Linked DNA regions of Homo sapiens. The protein of the gene in region 5 purifies or fractionates together with the protein of the main gene of each other region. This does not show direct contact. Each region holds a gene or a part of one and is shown on either strand. Other genes may lie near its edges.

What was found.
Region 1: the proteins of L3MBTL4 (region 5) and PDGFC purify together in Homo sapiens (affinity purification with mass spectrometry; one large-scale study listed by BioGRID and IntAct). This does not show direct contact.
Region 2: the proteins of L3MBTL4 (region 5) and PGD purify together in Homo sapiens (affinity purification with mass spectrometry; one large-scale study listed by BioGRID and IntAct). This does not show direct contact.
Region 3: the proteins of L3MBTL4 (region 5) and SAMD13 purify together in Homo sapiens (affinity purification with mass spectrometry, with the first as the bait; one large-scale study listed by BioGRID). This does not show direct contact.
Region 4: the proteins of L3MBTL4 (region 5) and PMM2 purify together in Homo sapiens (affinity purification with mass spectrometry; one large-scale study listed by BioGRID and IntAct). This does not show direct contact.

The regions. Positions count from the first base shown.
Region 1 is NC_000004.12:156,968,985-156,973,216, forward strand, and holds the start of PDGFC (platelet-derived growth factor C precursor), read right to left. Parts: upstream 2,816-4,232; 5' UTR 1,920-2,815; coding exon 1,802-1,919; intron 1,615-1,801; exon of another isoform or gene 1,535-1,614; coding exon of another isoform or gene 1,522-1,534; intron 1-1,521. UniProt on the Homo sapiens protein: Growth factor that plays an essential role in the regulation of embryonic development, cell proliferation, cell migration, survival and chemotaxis. Potent mitogen and chemoattractant for cells of mesenchymal origin.
Region 2 is NC_000001.11:10,418,522-10,421,012, reverse strand, and holds the end of PGD (6-phosphogluconate dehydrogenase, decarboxylating), read right to left. Parts: intron 2,188-2,491; coding exon 2,088-2,187; intron 1,597-2,087; coding exon 1,474-1,596; intron 1,384-1,473; coding exon 1,264-1,383; 3' UTR 502-1,263; downstream 1-501. UniProt on the Homo sapiens protein: Catalyzes the oxidative decarboxylation of 6-phosphogluconate to ribulose 5-phosphate and CO(2), with concomitant reduction of NADP to NADPH.
Region 3 is NC_000001.11:84,325,701-84,329,217, reverse strand, and holds part of SAMD13 (sterile alpha motif domain-containing protein 13), read right to left. Parts: coding exon 3,470-3,517; intron 1-3,469.
Region 4 is NC_000016.10:8,804,330-8,807,846, reverse strand, and holds part of PMM2 (phosphomannomutase 2), read right to left. Parts: intron 3,081-3,517; coding exon 3,004-3,080; intron 1,532-3,003; coding exon 1,440-1,531; intron 1-1,439. UniProt on the Homo sapiens protein: Involved in the synthesis of the GDP-mannose and dolichol-phosphate-mannose required for a number of critical mannosyl transfer reactions.
Region 5 is NC_000018.10:6,412,105-6,416,293, forward strand, and holds the start of L3MBTL4 (lethal(3)malignant brain tumor-like protein 4), read right to left. Parts: upstream 2,808-4,189; 5' UTR 2,697-2,807; exon of another isoform or gene 2,604-2,696; intron 2,513-2,603; exon of another isoform or gene 1,856-2,512; intron 1-1,855. UniProt on the Homo sapiens protein: Putative Polycomb group (PcG) protein. PcG proteins maintain the transcriptionally repressive state of genes, probably via a modification of chromatin, rendering it heritably changed in its expressibility.

The DNA.
Region 1 (4,232 bases), on a different chromosome or scaffold from region 5:
TTACAAAGTGATGATAGCATGGGGATCACAAGAGAGAACTAAAAGGAAAGGACAAAGAGAAGCACAGGTCAGCAAAGAGATTCGGGCAGATGCCAAGAGAGGCTTGATAAGACAAGGCAATAGGAGAAATGATATGGGACAGGAACAATAAAAAACAGAAGCCAGGAAGCCAGGAATATTGTGCATTGTTGTCATTATGGAGGAGCTTGGCTAGTAAGAAGCAATATTTTGAACTGGACATTTATTTTACATGAGAAAGAACAAAGGTTGGTCTGATGTGTTTCCTGCACGGGTACAGCTGGTGCTGTGGCTCCTTTGATCACTTTCCCCCAGACCTCTGCAGCTACTGTGATTAGAGATACATCCCTAGGCTGCCCTTTGATCAGCAGCTCAAGGAGCCTGCAGGTGCCATGTGGCATCACATTAGCAAGTTGTAAGAAGCACCACACTAATATTAGCTGATAAATGTGATACTATGTCTTGCTGCGCAACAGCAAATACAAATAACGTTTGCAAAAGTCGGCAGAATCCTTATTTTATCTACTTTTATACCCTAAAACTTTCTGTGCTTTCTTAAACATGAACACTTCATAGAGTTTAAATTCAAAGTTGAAGTCTTGAAACACCCCAATATGAAAAGGAAAAAAAATCACTCTGACTTAAAACTATAGCACATCCTATCTTAATTTTGTAGGTATGCCACTTGTGTTCATTTTGCATGGTTAATCAAGTGACAGAATCCTTGCATTCTGAATAGATGATATACAAAGCAGTAAAAACATGTATATTCCTTTTCAAATTACAGTAAGAGCCACCATTTGTAAACAGGGCGTTAAATATTCCAATTTTAGACAGCCTAACATGAACATTGTGGTTTCATGTGCAGTATAAAATTTCTATTTACAAAGTATTCTCAAAAATGACTTCATAATGGTAGATGAAGAGAAAAAGAGTTTAGAAATTGAATGATGTAAATCATATGGGTTCAGAGGCTAAGCAAATTACACACCCTGAAGCTGCCCTGGCTTTATGAAAGGAGCCTTTCTCCAGCTCTGTGCAATCCCAGCCCAAGGGAACTTGCATCTGAGAGTTTTCTAAACATTTCAGGTACACTTGAAAGCTGAAAGTAATTCTCATTTCCTATGCAGGATTAAGTCGTTTCCAGCACACACAAAATAGCAGTCATTCACCAACACATACAAAAACACACCACCAGAAAGGTAAGGACTTCAGAGTACAAAGGCAAGTTTAAAAAACAAAAACTAGGGAGCAAGAGAAATACACTTTTTAATTCCTCTAAAAACGACCACACAGCCTCTTGACCTCTATATTTCCTATCTACTCATTGATTAATTGATGACTTCGACCTAGAGTGCTTCAATTAATGCGGCTGATATATTTCCTGACCGACCCCCCTCGCCCTCCCCAAATCTGAGTAAAGTCAAACATGCCAAGGCTCATTCATTTTGGATTCGTTTTTAGAGGCAGTTCTTGAACTTCTAACTTTAGCAATGAGCGAACCTGCAATGTGCATTTGAAATGACGTTCACAATCGCTCCCAGAATGTCCTCACTCAGCAGTGGCACTCACGTTGCCCTCTTGGAGCTTTGTGGCAGCTCCCGAAGTTGCAAACTACACTTAACCTTTAACAGTCCATGCCAATGAACGCAGCGCACATTTGCATGTAATGAGAGACCAAAGATACCTTCACAGTCTGGTATATATCACATACCAACGCACAATGCCAACGTTAACACACACAGCGAGAAACAAGCAGGGGGAGAATGGGGGAAAGACTCACCGTTCTGTTCCTTGTTGCTGGAAAACTGGAATTTACTACTCAGGTTGGATTCCGCCTGAGTCCCCTGTCTCTGGCCGGCCAGGGCAGATGTCAGCAGGAGAAGCCCGAAGAGGCTCATTTGGCTGACTGGGGTGAGAGCTCACTCACGGCGGGCACTTTGGAAGCAGCGACTCCCGAGTCTCTTTCACCACCGCCAGGGGAAGGCTGCACTGGGGTGGAAGCGCCGAGCCTGCTCTGGCAGCAGAGAATCGCAGGGTAGTTTCCACATAATCCCATCCAAAACTTTTTCCTAGAGCCCTCTTCTGTGTCTCCAGTTTTTGAAAAGGATCAAAGCAAAACCTGGACCTGAACCAGTTTCCCAAGGTTTAAACAAATCCTGAGCTGTGGCGAAGTGGTGGGGGTGGGGGTGAAGGCGAGGGAGGAATGAGGGGGTGGGGACGCGGGGGAGCGGCGAGAAGTCCCCAGCAAGTTGCTGGGAGCACCTGTCAGTTCGGGGGACAGGACAGAGGCGAAAACTCAAGGGTTGCCCGCAGCCAGACTGGAAGCCAAGTCGGCGGCGAGCAGTTTCTGATCAATAACAAAGCTGCCAATAGATGCGGCTCTCCGGGCGCCCCTCTCCCCCGCCCCACCCCCCACCCCCGAAGGGGGAGGGGGAAGAAACAAGGCGAGGGCGCCGCGGCGGGTCCCACGGGCCGGGGCGCCGGAGCGGGGCCGGGGGGCTCCGGGCCGACGGCGGCCCGGGCGCAGGCGGAGAGAGGCCGCGGGGCTCCCGCTCCTCAGCCCGGAGCGCAGTTGGCCCCGGGTTCGGAGCGCCGCAGCACGGATTCCGGCACCTGGCTTGAGTTTTCCGCGACCAAAGTTCACCTTGTTCGGGCTCGTCCCCCGCTCCTCAAAGCCTGGGGCAATTCGGCCGCTCGGGGTCACCGCGGGGCTCCGGTTGTTCCCCGTCCCCTCCCCCCACGCCTCGGGCTCCGCGCTAACCTCGGGGCTACGCGCGGCGTCTCCGCACGGGGTGAAGAGGGAAGGCCGGGGCGGCCGGGAGGATCCGGCTTGTCCCCTCCCCTTCTCTACCTTCCCCCCGCCGGGCGGCAGACAGGAGGTGGGGGCCGTGGGCCGAGCCCGGGCGGAGCGCGCGCCTGGCGAGCGGGGGCGGCTCAGCGGCTCTCCCGCAGGCGGCCGATGGGGCGGGCGGGGGTCAGCGCCTCTGGGAGGGGCAGCCCTGGGACGCGTCCGCGCGAGCGGGCTTGGCCGCCCACTGGCTGTCAACAGGTGCTGCGCAGACAGGGGGTGCTGCGGGACTCGCTGTGGGCAAGACCCCGGTGGCCCAGGAGAGGAACGCGGCCAAGGCGGCCCCTGCTTTCCCTTCCACGGAACACCTCTAACCCCAAATACAGAGCACGATGGGTGGTGAAGGGTGCTGCAGAAGTAAGTGGGAAAGAACTTCCTGCAGCTCTCCTTCTCCCGCCCCCTGTCGCCTGACTTGTCATTAGTTTCCAGGAGGGCTCCCCACTCCCTAAGGTCTTTGCTAGGACCCTTGGCCAGAGTTTCAGAACAGAAGGAAGAAGGGAAATGAATTCAAAGGCTTTCCTCCAATTTCCAGCTCCGTAAAGCAGGACAAATAAAGCAAAAGTAAAGGCAGCCAAAATAACATCCATTTAACAAGTACTATATTTACTGAATGCCTACTATGTCGGGCACTGTTTAGAGGTTGGAGCCGTAGCAGTGAAAACAGACAAAAGTCCCTGCCCTCGTGAAGCATACGTAGTAGTTGGGCAGCATTAAGCTAATAGCAAGCTCTTCTGAGAATGGTGTCTAAGGGACTCAGAATGATCCTGCAACCTTGGACTTTCCTACAATACAGCCTCTAACAAAACTAGGCTGCCCTGAACCCCTGGTGATAGAATTGTTTACATTTACACCAAAAAGGTCGAGAAAGAACTGAAATCTCTTGTGGCTTGTGTTCAGGCTGACTTGGAGAGAGAGGCCGATGCTTTAAGACCTAAAGTTCTCATGAGGTAGTCTGAAATGAAACACACATGCCAAGCAGGGCTTATGGTGGTTCCATGTCTGCTAAATATGTCTGTGACAGGATCCAACGTGCTTTCTTTGTGGAGAAGCAGAAAATCATTGTCAATGTGTTAAAGGCACAAGCAGAGAGTCAGAAAAGTTGAATTTTAAAATGAAGCTATTTTTGAGTAATAATCAAAATGAAAACAAGGAAGTGCCATGGCAGGCAAATCAGCAATATCACCCAACTTCTTGTGGAAAAAAAGTCAATGCAAACAATTCGACCATCAAGAACACTTGGGCTGGAACAGAAAACCAAAATAGCAATGTCCCTGAAACTAAGGAGTGGCATTTGGGCAAGAACATATTCTTACTGGACCAAACCAGGGGCTGATCCTTCTTCAGTGGTGAGGAAAATGCCAAG
Region 2 (2,491 bases), on a different chromosome or scaffold from region 5:
GGGCACCTGTAGTCCCAGCTACTCTGGAGGCTGAGGTGGGAGAATGGTGTGAACCCGGGAGGTGGAGCTTGCAATGAGCCAAGACCACGCCACTGCACTCCAGCCTGGGTGACAGAGCGAGACTCTGTCTCAAAAAAAAGAAAAATAAATTAAAAGTTGGTGATTTAATGAAAATTGTCTCCTTCACTGACATTAGCCGAGAGGTCAGAGGTCACACTGTAGACACCAGCTGTCGAGGCACAGGCGCTGCTCGCTCCTCTTAGGCAACTCTTAGGACTTTAACACTCCAGGGAAATCATCATGAAGTCAAACCGCTGCAGGGAACAGTCACACTGGCCCCAGGCCACACAACAATATCACTGGCAGGTTTTATCTTCTCTGAGTAAGTAAGATAAAGTGAAAAGCCTAGTTTAAGGAGCCGGCTTAGCTTGTTCAAAATCCCTGGGCCTGGCTTAGAGCAAGTAGAGACAGGTGTGGGAAAGGAAATAAATCAGACCAAGCTGAGCCCATCATTAAAGTTTAATTCTCTAGAAAGTTTAGTATGAAGTATTTGACATACAAAAAGCCATAAAGAATGTCACGCACAGCTTGCCAGGAGCAAAAAAAAAAAAAAAAAAAAAAAAGACGAAAGAAAAAGCACGTTACAGTGAACGTCCATGTACCCATTGCCCAATTGGAGAAAGAAAACATGCCCAGTGTATTAAAGCCCCTGGTGTGTCCTCCCTGCCTGCCTCCTCTGAGTGAAGCATAATCCTAAATGTGGTTTCTTGTGTTATTCTAGTCTTTTTTTTTAAAGAAAAATCTTTCTGCCAATGGGGATAATGGCTCCATGTGGCCGAGGTGAGACTAAGAATCTGGAGAAAGAGCATCAGTCTGATGTAGCTTTTATTGAGTAAAGGAAAAAGGGAATTCAGCCGCATGATACAGAGGTTCCAGTTGATCAGAGTGCGCAAACACCCTTCCTGTCTGCGTGATGGGAACCGCACCAGCACACGGGGCACGCGGAAGCCACTGCCGCAAGGAGATGGTTCCCACTCTCACGCACATGAGCAGCTCCTGGTCAGTCCCAAGAGGCAAGGGCAGAGGGCATGGTGGCTCTCACAGAGCTACTTTACAAATAAACTGTGTGTCTTCCTCAGGAGTCTCTTACAACACTTTTAAAAAACTGAACAGAAAATAGGGCAAAGGGCCAGGTGGCAGTGCCATGAGGCACATGGAATGTCCTGGTCTGTGGAATCGTGGAGGGTGACAGGAGCAGCATGATCAGGCATTGTATGACGAGGATGACACGGTGCCACCATGGCCTGTCCAGTTGGTGTGGATAAACTGCCCTGGTTTGGCCAAGAGTTCATAGGTGTGAGCCCCGAAGTAATCCCGCTGAGCCTAGGAAACGAGAGAGTAGGTTGGTCAGGACAGTCCATGGCGCACGCCCCCGAGGGGCCAGCCAGGTTAATCCCTGCTCCACAGGCTTACCTGGATGAGGCTGGCTGGAAGCATCTCATGTCTGTACCCGTCATAGAAGGAGAGGGCAGTGGTAAAACAGGGCATGGGAATGCCAGCCTGGACCCCAGTGCTGACTGCCCGCCGCCAGGAGTCCTGAGCACAAAACGCACGGCCAGAGATTAGTGATCTGCCCCTGGTGACGCGGATAGATTTTCATTCATATCAATGTGGGTAAATGAAAAACTGATGGTTAGGCCAGGCGCGGTGGCTCACGCCTGTCATCCCAGCACTTTGGAAGGCTGAGGTGGGCGGATCACGAGGTCAGGAGTTCAAGACCAGTCTAGCCAACATGGTGAAACCCCATCTCTACTAAAAATACAAAAAAAAAAAAAAAATTAGCCAGGTATGTTGGCACACCTGTAGTCCCAGCTACTTAGGAAGGCTGGGGCAGGAGAATCGCTTGAACCCAGGAGGCGGAGGTTGCAGTGAGCCAAGATCATGCCACTGTACTCCAGCCTGGGTGACAGAGCGAGACTCTGTCTCAAAAAAACAAAAAACCAAAAAAAAAAAACAAAAAACCAAACATCACAACTGATGGCCCCAGGGAGGTAGAGTAACCATGGCACCAGCCCTAGGCTACATACCTGGCAGTTTTCAACAGCTGACTTAAAGAAGTCGTCCAGTAGGAGGTTCTGAAGTTCCGGGTTTCGATCAAATGCATCCTTTATCTTTCCTAGGAATACACTGAAATAATCAAGGGGGGAAAAAAGCAATGAGTCTTTTTTTTTTTTTTTTTGAGACGGAGTCCCGCTTTGTCACCAGGCTGGAGTGGAGTGGCACGATCTCAGCTCACAGCAACCTCCACCTCCCAGGTTCAAGCGATTCTCCTGCCTCAGCCTCGCCAGTAGCTGGGATTACAGGCACGCACCACTACAACCGGCTAATTTTTGTATTTTTAGTAGAGACAGGGTTTCACCGTGTTAGCCAGGATGGTCTGGATCTCCTGACCTCGTGATCCGCCTGCCTCGGCCTCCCAAAACGCTGGGAT
Region 3 (3,517 bases), on a different chromosome or scaffold from region 5:
TGGCTTGTAGAAGGCTGTCTTCTTGCTGTATCCTTACACCTGAGAGTAAGCTCTCTGGTGTCTTGTTCTCTTCTTATAAGAGCATTGATCTCATCATGGGGGTTCCATCCTCATGACCTCATCTAAACCTAATTACCTCCCAAAGATCCCACCTCCTAATATCCTCACTGTGGGTTAGGTTTTCAACATAAGAGTTTTGGGGGCACATAAACATTCAGCTCATAATAGCCATGAAACAATAAGCTCCCCACATCACTGGCAACCGTGCTGCCCTTTCTGGACTTGCCCTTTTCAAAAGTGGTTTAGGGGATGCTCTCCATCCCTGTCCTGCTTCTGTCAAGTGGAAGGGCAAAGCTTTCCTGAGGAGAGTTTAAGGAGGCAGTTGTTCTAATTGTTTCTCAGCGCTGTGACCTTGCATGTACCTGCATGTACCTTGGAAGGGCCATGTGCTTGGGCTGGAGAAGGCCTGCATTTTCTAATCAGGATGATGAGTGGGTGCTAACCAACTAGGTTCATTGCCAGGAAGACTCCAGAGGTAAAATGCTGATGCCCTCTGTAGTGTGATGATGGAAGAGGCAGGTTAACATGGTAGAGGATCCAATCCTCAGTCCTCATGAATATCACAGCAGCGACTTATCTTACCATCCTAAGCCTGGCCAGTGATTCCCTCCCTGCCCTCCAGTCCTTTAATGGGAAAAGGAGAAACGATATTTGAATCACTGCCAGAGACAAATTCAAGGCAGACTCTTCCCTGACCCAATCACCCTTCCATGAGAATGAAGAAACTCAAGCTTCTGGACCATGCTTGCAAAACTCTGATCCTTTGAGAATTCATTTCTCAGGCTTCCGAGTTGGCAGGTTGAACATAGTAGCAAGACGATGCTCACTTCTCCCTTGAAGGATTTCTGAATGAAATGCTTTAGAAGAGTTTATTCCCATTATGGTTCCCAGTGTCCATTGGGACAGAATGAGATCATCCATGGGAGAAAGTGCCTGCTCGTGGGCCAGGCTCAGAGCTGGCAGTCCCATTTCTGAGGTAAGTCACAGAACCTGGAAGGTCCAGAGACCATCGTGTGCCCCCAGTCTGGGATGTCTGCCTCCAAGGAGTCTGAGCAAAAGCTCAACCTGCAAAGGGCTTTTGGTCAGCTGGGAATCTGGCCAAGAGACCTTTTAGCTAAGTATTTTTTTGTTAACCATTTACAATATTATCTACATTTAATTTTAGAAGAGTGCTATTCAATTGCTGTGACACAAATGGACATTGTACCAGTGAAAAACAAAATAAAATATGTTCCAGCTGATCAGCGGCCTTCCACTTTCCAACCTGAGCAGTTTTTTCCATCACAATTCATAAAAGTTTTTCAAACATAAAGAAAACTCATCAGAGTTTTATAGTAAATACCCATATTCTGAACACCTAGATGCTACAATTAACATTTCCTGTACTTGCTTTACCACATATATGTCCACATAGTCACCCTTCTATTTAATTGCCAATGCATATGTTTGATGCATTTTAAATTGACTTGTATATATCAGTATACTTTACCCTAAACACTTCTGTTTTTATACCACTGTTTAGGTGTTTTTCATAGTTCTTTTCTTTTTGAAGTAAAATGTGTATGTTCTGTAATGCACAAACCTGAATCATTTGCATATGCCTGTGTATTAGCAAGCAGTGACCCATGCATACCTGTAACCCAAGCCTGTATCAAGATACAGAATGTTACCATCACCCAGAAATTTCCCTCATACTCCTTCCCAGTCGTTTTCCACCCCCACGCAGCCAGAGGCAACCCCTGTTCTGATTGTTTTTTTACCACTGATTGATTTTCCTGTTCTGAAACCTTATCTAAATGGAACCATTCAGTATGAACTCAGTTATGTAAGGTTTCTCTCAATCAGTAATATGTTTTTGAGACTCATGCAAATGGCTGCACATAACAGTAGTTCATTCCTTTTTATTACTGTGGAGTATTCCACTGTATGAATATATCACGGTTTGTGTATTCATTCTCCTATTGATGTACACCTAGGCTTCAAATTTTTGACCATTGTGATAAAGCTAGTAAGAACAATTTTGTACAAATCTTTTTACAGACATGTGTTTTCATTTCCCTTGGGTAAATACCCAGGAGTAAAACTGCTGCATCAAGGGGTAGATGTCTGAATGTTGATTTCACAGTCTCACCAACAACAAAAGAGTTCCAGTTGCTCCACATCCTCGTGAATGTTTAATATTATCAACCTTTCTCATTTTAGCTCTTCTGGTAGGTATGAAGAAATTTAAGCTGCTATTTTAGCAAGTTTTCCAAATTAGGAAAAAAATACTTATGTACAAAGATCAAGTCTGAAGTAAATATAGGTTGAAGGAAATCTAGAAATTGGCGTGTGCAATTTTAGAAAAGTTTACCTTATCCAAACTCAGGCCATACAGCTAATAGTTTGAGAGAATGAACAATGGCTGAAGGGATATGGAACAAGCAGCCAGACACATTTTTCAGTTTTTAATTCTCCCTACAATATTATGATATTAGAAAAGAAAATGTAATGCTTAGAAAACTGCAGCCTTCGTTGGTAGAGAAATAGGAACTCTGTGTTTACCCACAGAACTGGCCTGGTGTGAACCACACTGTGTTGCCCCCACTTGCCTCCTCAGGTCAAAGCCCCTTGAAGACCAACCCTGCAAACCTAGCACAGCCTGCAACATGGAGCTATGAATCACCTAGACAATTGGGATGGACTCCTGCCACTTTCTCCCTCTTTCTAATACCATCCCTGGACCTGAGGAAAAGGAAATCCCATTTTTTGAGTATCAACACTATGCCAGAACCTATCATAGGCACTGTGTGTATATTGTCCACTAATCCTCACAACAACATCCCTATAAAGTTATTGACAGTCTGATGTTATAGATATGAAACCAAGACTCAGAGAGACATAGTAACGTGCCTAGGGTCACATAGAGATAGAAGAACCAGGATTCGACTATCAATCCTGTGCTTTTTCCACTCTACCTTGCTAAGCACCCAGAAAGCAAACTGCAAAGGGCTTAATAGTCCATTGGGTGCTGAGGCCAGTAGTAGGAGGTGGTGTATGTCTCTCAGTCAGGTTTGTCCCTGCTTTTCCTTTCTTTTCTGTTTCCTGCTTTCTAGTGTGTTTTCATTGAAGGTAGGGCTGATTCACTCCACCCTTGAGTATGATCAGTCTTTCAGAGGACACAGATGTAAATGAGCTTTAGCCTTCTTCTCCACAGCTGCCACTGTCTCCGGCTTTGAGTTTTCCCCTTGCACAAAGGGATAATTCACCTGGTACATCCATTCTCCTTCCCCTCAGTTTCTCAGAGCCTCACTGATTCCTCCCTGCTCTTTGGTCCTCTTCCTCCTCACTCCCTTCTGCCCACTGTTGGGAAGGGAGGTAACTGTGGGTTCATCACATGTTCATCACGTGTTTCTCTAGACCAAGTTACCTGTTCCTGAAAAGCACTAGCTTGCTCCTCAAATCCCACGGTTCGGAA
Region 4 (3,517 bases), on a different chromosome or scaffold from region 5:
AGATAATTGTACCCATGGCAGAAGGTAGGTCCCCAAACCAAACATTTATGAAAGCCAGGGGCAGTGGCTAATGCCTGTAATCCCAACATTTTGGGAGAGTGAAGTGGGAGGATCGCTTGAGGCCAGGAGTTGGAGACCAGCCTGGGCCATACGGCAAGACCCTATCTCTACAAAAAATTAAAAAATTAGTCAGGCATGGCGGCATGTGCCTGTAGTCCCAGCTACTCAGGAGGCTGAGGTAGGAGGATCACTTGAGCCAAGGAGGTTGAGGCTGCAGTGAGCTATGATCATGCCACTGCACTCCAGCCTGGGCAACAGGGCGAGATCCTCTCTCTCAAAAAACAAAACAAAACAAAAAACAAAAAGAAAGCCTAGGGAGACAGAAAATGAGAGAAGCAGTCTGTGACTGGAACAAATGTCCATGAGTCAGGTGGCAGCTGCTCAGGTGGCACCTGCCGGCAGGGAACTGGGAGCCGGAGTAGCCAGGTCTCAGATTTGCCAACAGAAGCCAGAAATCCAGATGTTTAAAACATAAAATCAGGCTGGGCAAGGTGGCTCACGCCTTTGACACCAGCAATTTGGGAGGCCAAGGTGGGTGGATCAGTTGAGGTTGGGAGTTCGATATCAGCCTGGCCAACAGAGTGAAATGCCATCTCTACTAAAAATACAAAAAAAAAAAAAAATTAGCTGGGCATGGTGGTGTGCGCCTATAATCCCAGCTACTCGAGAGGCTGAGGCAGAAGAATTGCTTGAACCTGGGAGGCGGAGGTTGCAGTGAGCTGTGAGATCCTGCCACTGCACTCCAGCCTCGGCCACAGAGTGAGACTCGGTCTCAAAAATAAATTCATAAATAAATAAAACAAACATAAAATCAGACTTTTACATGATGGCAATTAATCCGATTTTCTTTAACACTGCAGGCCAACCAGATTTGGGTTTTACGTGGATCTGGCCCGAAGGCTTCCTGTCTCAGACTTCCCGATCTAGGGTTTCTGTTGCTTTTTGTACATGCTGCTTCACTGCTGTTTCCTCTCACTGACAGCCTTTGAAAGCATATGGTCTTCAATGGTTGTATAAATTTCCATCATGTGGATAAGCCATCATTTACGTAATCATTCTTGTACTGTTGGCTTTGTGGACTGTTTCCAATTATTCCTTACTAAGTGCTGGGATTCGGATTTAAATTCGCTGGCCCATGGTGGCTACTGAACCCTGCTGTGAACCAGCAGCACCAGGGCAGCCAGAGAAAATGTGGATTTCCAAGCTCGGCTCTCAGGCTTTCTGAACCAGAATTGCCAAGGGGCGGGCTAAATATCAGACTTTGTTTTTAAAACTCTTTAGGTGATTTTTATAATCCTATTTGGAGAATGCCCACATTAGCCCACCATGTGACACTACGCTATGTTCCTGTGACGCCTCTTTGTTAAAAGCAAACCCACCTCTTCTTCGGGAGTTTAATTTTCGCAATGTAGCTCAGACAGTAGTTGATTAAATCTTGGATTAGGGCCTCACCCAGATGACTTTGAATATTCTAGATGAAGAAAATACTTGAGTTACTTGATTTAGCAGGAGCATTTTCAAAACAGCTTCATAGCAAACCCAGGGTCTTCAGCCACGATTGCTGAAAATCAGTAGGCTGATGTAGCAGTGATGGTGACATGCCCCACTGTCTGTTTAATTCCTTCTCTTATTTCTCTGGTCAAAAGCATTAGGCAAGCCAGAAAAGCTTTAGTCAAAAGCATTTTCTGCTTCATCACCCAAGATTTTTGTACTCATTATTGTTCAAATGCTTCCTGTAAGGTCCAAAGAGCTTACTGCTGCCACTTTTATTCAATTAAAATATCTCCAGATATTGACAGACAATATATTTGTTCCACTTCGGCATTCTCTTATGTCTGAATAGAATGATCTTACTACTACTAAGAGCTACACAGTACCTCTTAAAAATGCTTATAGTGCCCAGGCGTGGCAGCTCACACCTGTAATCCCAGCATTTTGGGAAGCTGAGGCAGGTGGATGACTTCAAGTCATGAGCTCGAGACCAGCCTGGCAAACATGGTGAAACCCTGCCTCTACTAAAAATACAAAAATGAGCCGGGCATGCTGGTGGATGCCTGTAATCCCACCTAGGGAGGCTGAGGCACAAGAATCATTTGAACCCAGGAGGCAGAGGTTACAGTGAGCCAGGATTGAGCCACTGCACTCCAGCCTGGGCAAGAGTGAGATTCCACCACGAAAAAAGAAAAAAGAAAAAAAAAAATGCTTATAGTGAAGCAGTCTGCTCTAGTTTTATCATCATAGAAATGTTATTAATAGATTTAAAGCCAGGCTTGGTGGCATGTGCCTGTAGTCCCTGCTACGTGGGAGGCTGAGGCAGAGGATCACCTGTGCCCAGGAGTTCTAGGCCACTGGGATTGCACCACTGCACTCCAGCCTGGTTAACACAGCAAGACCCCATCTTTTTAAAACAAGAAGAAAAGGCTGGGTGTGGTGGCTCATGCCTGTAATCCCAGCACTCTGGGAGGCTGAGGTGGGCGGATCACTTGAGGTCAGGGGTTAGAGATCAGCCTGGCCAACATGGTGAAACCCTGTCTCTACCAAAAATACAAAAATTAGCTGGGTGTGGTGGCGTGTGCCTGTAATCCCAGCTATGGGGGAGGCTGAGGCGTAAGAATTGTTTGAACCAGGGAGGCGGAGGTAGGCGGAGGTTGTAGTGAGCTGAGATCGTGCCGCTGCACTCCAGCTCCAGCCTGGGTGACAGAGCAAGACTCCGTCTCAAAAACAAAATAAGAAAAGAGAGAAATATTAGATTTAAAAAGTATAAAAATTTAGTTATCAATGTAGAATATGTAATAGTCACATGGTTCAAAATGCAAAACAAAAAATACAGAGTAAAGATTCATTTCTACCCGTTCCTCATCTTCCTAGAGGCATTCATTGTGAAATGCCCTTTTAGAAAACACTTTTAATAGTATATAGTAATTCAGATACTCAAGAACCTACCTGTCTACACAAGAGTTTCCCATCTTTGTATGCTACCAAGCCATTTTCTGGAAACACATAATCGTATTTTTCAACCACTACAATCAAAACCAAAAAAACACTTAGAATGCAAAGAATCAAAACCTGTGTTTTTACTCCTTGATTAACAATGACCACCAATAAAACCGCTAAACTCCAGCAAGGACTGTGAAAGACTATCTCATCTTACAGACTAAGAGAAGAGTATGGAAAAAAGTTCCTTGTTTTTTTAATGGCTCTTTTTGGTTACACATTTAAACGATGATGACTGGGCAGGAGATTAGGGACTTGGTGACAGGTTATCTTATGTCCCTGACTTCAGCCTGACTGTCTGTAGAGGAAGATACTCGTCCATGATGCTGATGGTTCACCAGCAGCAACCAGGGCAGTGTGAAAATGCAGATTTCCAAGCTTTGCTCTCTCGCTTCCTGAATCAGAATTGCTGAGGGACAGGCTAAATATATTTTTAAAAAAGCTCTTTGGGTCGGGTGCGGTG
Region 5 (4,189 bases):
GTATCCATTAGTTATTCTTCCTGATCCCCTCCCTCCTCCCATCCTTCGATAGGTCCCAGTGTATGTTGTTCCCCTTTATGTGTCCATGTGTGCTTATCATTTTGTTCCCACTTGTAAGTGAGAACGTGCAGTCTTTGGTTTTCTCAATCCAGTGTTGTATAAATGGAATTTATCCTTTCCACCCTGCCTCCAGCCCACCAAACCTACCTCTCCTGCTCACTCCCCCACTTCACCAGCAGCAGCATTCTTTCTTAATTATAATAATTAACTGAAAGAATGAACACTTATCTAATGGCGATTTTCAGACCCTCCTTCGGCTCTCTGGAGAACAGAAAACTTAACCCACTTGAAGGAGTGATGGGGGGAGGAGGGATTGAAGCTTCTGCTTCCTTGGTCAGACTGGGTGCTGGTGCTTCCTACGCAGCCTCCTGGAAGTGGCTTTCAGGTTGGCCTTTTCTTCATAGGAAGAACTCGAGGGCTTTCCATCAGCAAATCTTCCTTCAGAGTCAGCCTGATCTCCCTCACTGTTGCTTTTATCACCTCCTGCCTCTGCTCAGCAGTTGTCTGCTCACATACGGACTCGGTCCTACGAGTATTTGTTGAGCATGCACTTACCCACGTGCCAAGTCCCATGCCAAGCAAAGGAGGCTTATTACCACCAAAAAGGAGTAAGAAGTGTCGTTTAAGATATAAACCACACAGGTACTGTAATGAAGTTATACAGATGTTACAGAGCACCTAAGATTCTTATGAGAACTTTAAAATATGCAAGCTTACTTCTCTTTAAAGTGAAAGTTAAATGAGTTTCCGTCTCTACAAAAAAAAAAAAATTAGAAAATTAGCCAGGCATGGTGGTGCACAGCTACCCTCCCAGTCAATAGGCTGAGGCGGGATCCTTTGAGCCCAGGAGGTTAAGGCTGCAGTGAGCCATGATGGTACCACTGCACTTCAGCCTGGGTGACAGAGTGAGACCCTATCTCTAAAAAATAAAAATAAAATGTTTAAAAAGTGAAAGTTAACACAGTTCCTTCACTTTCATTACCTCTGTCTTCACCAGATCACCTTCCCACCAATACCCTTTCTTTGGAAACTGAGTGAGAGCACACTGCAGAGGTTAACCAAGCTGAACATTTCTTGTGACCCCAATATTGTACAGCAAAGTGCTAAGTGATTCTGCAGTCAAGGGTTACATGCAATACATCCTCAATGTTGCCTCACATCTAAGAGCATAATTAATAGCAGTTTTATGTTCATCTTCCTTCCTACTCAACCATTACACACCAAGTCAGTGTAGTCGAATCCAATCCCTTTGGATACTCCAAGAAAAAAACCTCTCCTCTTTCAACCGTTTCTCCTAATTCTGTAGTAATATAAGGAATGCATTCCAAGTTTTTAATATTACCAAGGGCCAAAAACAACTCTACTGTACCCACCACCTGTTTGTCACCTTAACCTTTTTAGGTGGAATAGATTAGAAAACCGAAGAGCCACACTACACTTATTTCAGCCAAGGACTGAAACTGGAGCCTGCCACAAGCATCTTCTAGAACAGCTCCAACAGAAGGATCCAGGAGATGGGCCACCAGCAAGTCATAGTGGAGTCCAAACAAGTGTGAAGTGAGAGCGAGTCTTCAGCATGGGAATGGCCGAGTGGGTCGTGGTGACCAGCTGCCTTCCTCTGACTGTTAAGTACAGCAGTCTCAACAGTAACAATGACCAGGCCTTCCCTTTATTTAGTTCCACCTCGGGGCATTGGCGCATTAAGAATGTCCCTCTAAAGGCATATGTAAGATAAAGCACACTTCGCACTTTAACCAGTGACTAAGGGAGATCAAAAGCAGGGGACAATACCCACCCGGAATTTGCGACCTCGCGAAAACGCTCTCACCAATCCCGCAGGTAAGTGCGGCGCTGGCCCAGGTGTGCCCAGCTCGACTCGCGTCCACCTGGGACCAAGCGGGCCCAAGAAGGCCCGGAGAGCAGGCGAGGGCGACTGTGGCCGGCGCGCCCCCCGCAGTTCCAGGCGGTGGCAGGAGCCTGAGAGCCGCCGTCCCAGGCTGGCCAGGCGCCCGCCCGCCCTGCGCGCACTCCCTGGGCTCCCGCTCCCGAGGCTGGGCAGAACTCGCAGAGGAAGACAAGGGCAGAAAGCGGGTGGAGGGAGGCAGCGCTCGCCCGTCCGGGCACACGACACTTGTCGGCTGAGGGGGACACGCGGGCAGACGGGGGCGTTAGCCCCAGAGGAAACAAAAGCCAAATGCCCACCGCCGGGCGCTCGATGGCCGGAGGACTGCCTGGGGGCCCTCAGGAGTCCCGTCCCGTCCCGCTCCCCCGGTCCCAGGCTGCGCTGGCTCCAGGGCGCCCAGGTAGCCGCGCCTGGCACCCCGACCCTGCCCTCGCGGCTGACCGAGGCGCCGGGCTCTGCGGCGGCCGCGCCCGTCCAAAGTAGGCGACAAGTGAGGCAGCGCCTCTCGCGGGGAGCCCGGCGCGCGCCCCGGCGGCGAAAGAGAAAGAGAAAGAGCCTGGGCCGGGACCGGGGCTATCCCCAACCGCCACCGCCCCCACCGGCCCGGCCCTCGCCGCGGGAGTCGTGCAGGCCCCTCTACCTGCCCGGGGATGGGGCCACCCCGCGCGGCGGCGGCCGTGGGCACCCACGCGGGCTCGCGACCATCCCACGCGGGCGGCGGCGTCCTTCTTACCCCCAGCGGAGCGGCGCCTGCCCGCAACGCCGACCGAGCTACAGGCGGGGGGCGAGTCGGAGCGCGAGGTTCCGCCAGCCCAGGCTGCGGCGCCGCTGCCCCGCGGTGCCCGGCGGGAGGGGCGCGAGGGTGCACGCGCGGGGTGGGGGCGCGGGAGCCGCCCCCTGCCCGCCCCGCGCGCATGCTCCCGCCGCACCTGCCTCGCTCAGTGTTCCACACCCCGGGGAGCCGGGTGGCGCTGGGCCCGCCGAGGTCGGGGCTTTCCCATGGGAGGGAGGTGGCTGCGGCGGAATTTTCAGATGCGTCCTTCTCTGTATTCGTTCCCTGGGAAGGATTCCCCCAAATCTTGGCTACTTCCTGCCTGCCAGCTTGCTCCCTGGCAGCGAAGTCCCAGTAGCTCACCCATGCTTCATCCCAGCTCTTGGGGTTCACCGTCTGAAGGCTCTCTCCTCCGGATCCCTCTCGGTCCTGCTGCTCGCTCCGATTTTGCAACCTCCCCCACTCCCCTTTCCTGCTCTTGACTTTGCTACTCACGAGTACCTGGATACCATTTCCAAATAAAAGAATACTCTTTCCAAGTGGCAAGCAGTGTTTACTGACCCTGTTCTAACTGCTTGGAATTGAGCAGGAAACAGGAGCTGGGTAGATCCTGCCCTCATGGAACTTATGGCCTTACTGGCTAGCTTTGGCCTTTCTCAAAGCATTGTCTCCCAGTTTGGGAGGACTGTATTAAATCATTTATTTTGGCTTACAAATAAAGGTAGCTGATAATTGAAGACTATATGTTGTGACTTTTGAATGAAATGTTCTTTCATAGGACGCCTTGTGTATAAACCCTAGTATGCAAATAATAAATAGTAGGTACTAAATAAGTATTAGTTTGTTGCTTTCAGCAGGAAATTGAATCATTTAGCAGGATTAACAATGATACCATCCAAAATGATCTTTTTGGTTTGTCGTGGGCTACCATAAACAGAGAATGAAAACTTGCTTTTTAGGTGAGACTGGGCATTGTTGAAACATAATTTCGTGTCCTTACTGAAAAGAGAAATATAAACCCCTTTGCTAATGAAGTTTTTAAACTAGGAACAATGATCATAGAAATTTGTAAGTGCAAACACACGATTTGTGTTCTGTGCTCTAGTCAGTTAAGAAAAATATATTAGCCAGGTATGGCGGCTCACATCTGTAATCCCAGCACTTTGGGAGGCCGAAGAGGGCGGATCACTTGAGGTCAGGAGTTCGAGACCAGCCTGGCCAACATGGTGAAACCCTGTCTCTACTAAAAATACGAAATTAGCTGGGTGTGGTGGCGGGCGCCTGTAATCTCAACTACTCGGGAGGCTGAGACACTAGAATCGCTTGAACCTGGGAGGCAGAGGCTCCAGTGAGCTGAGATAGTACCACTGCACTCCAGCCTGGGCAACAGAGCGAAACTCCAACTCAAAAAAAAAAAAAAGAAGAAGAAAAAGAAAAACAAAAAGAAAAAGATA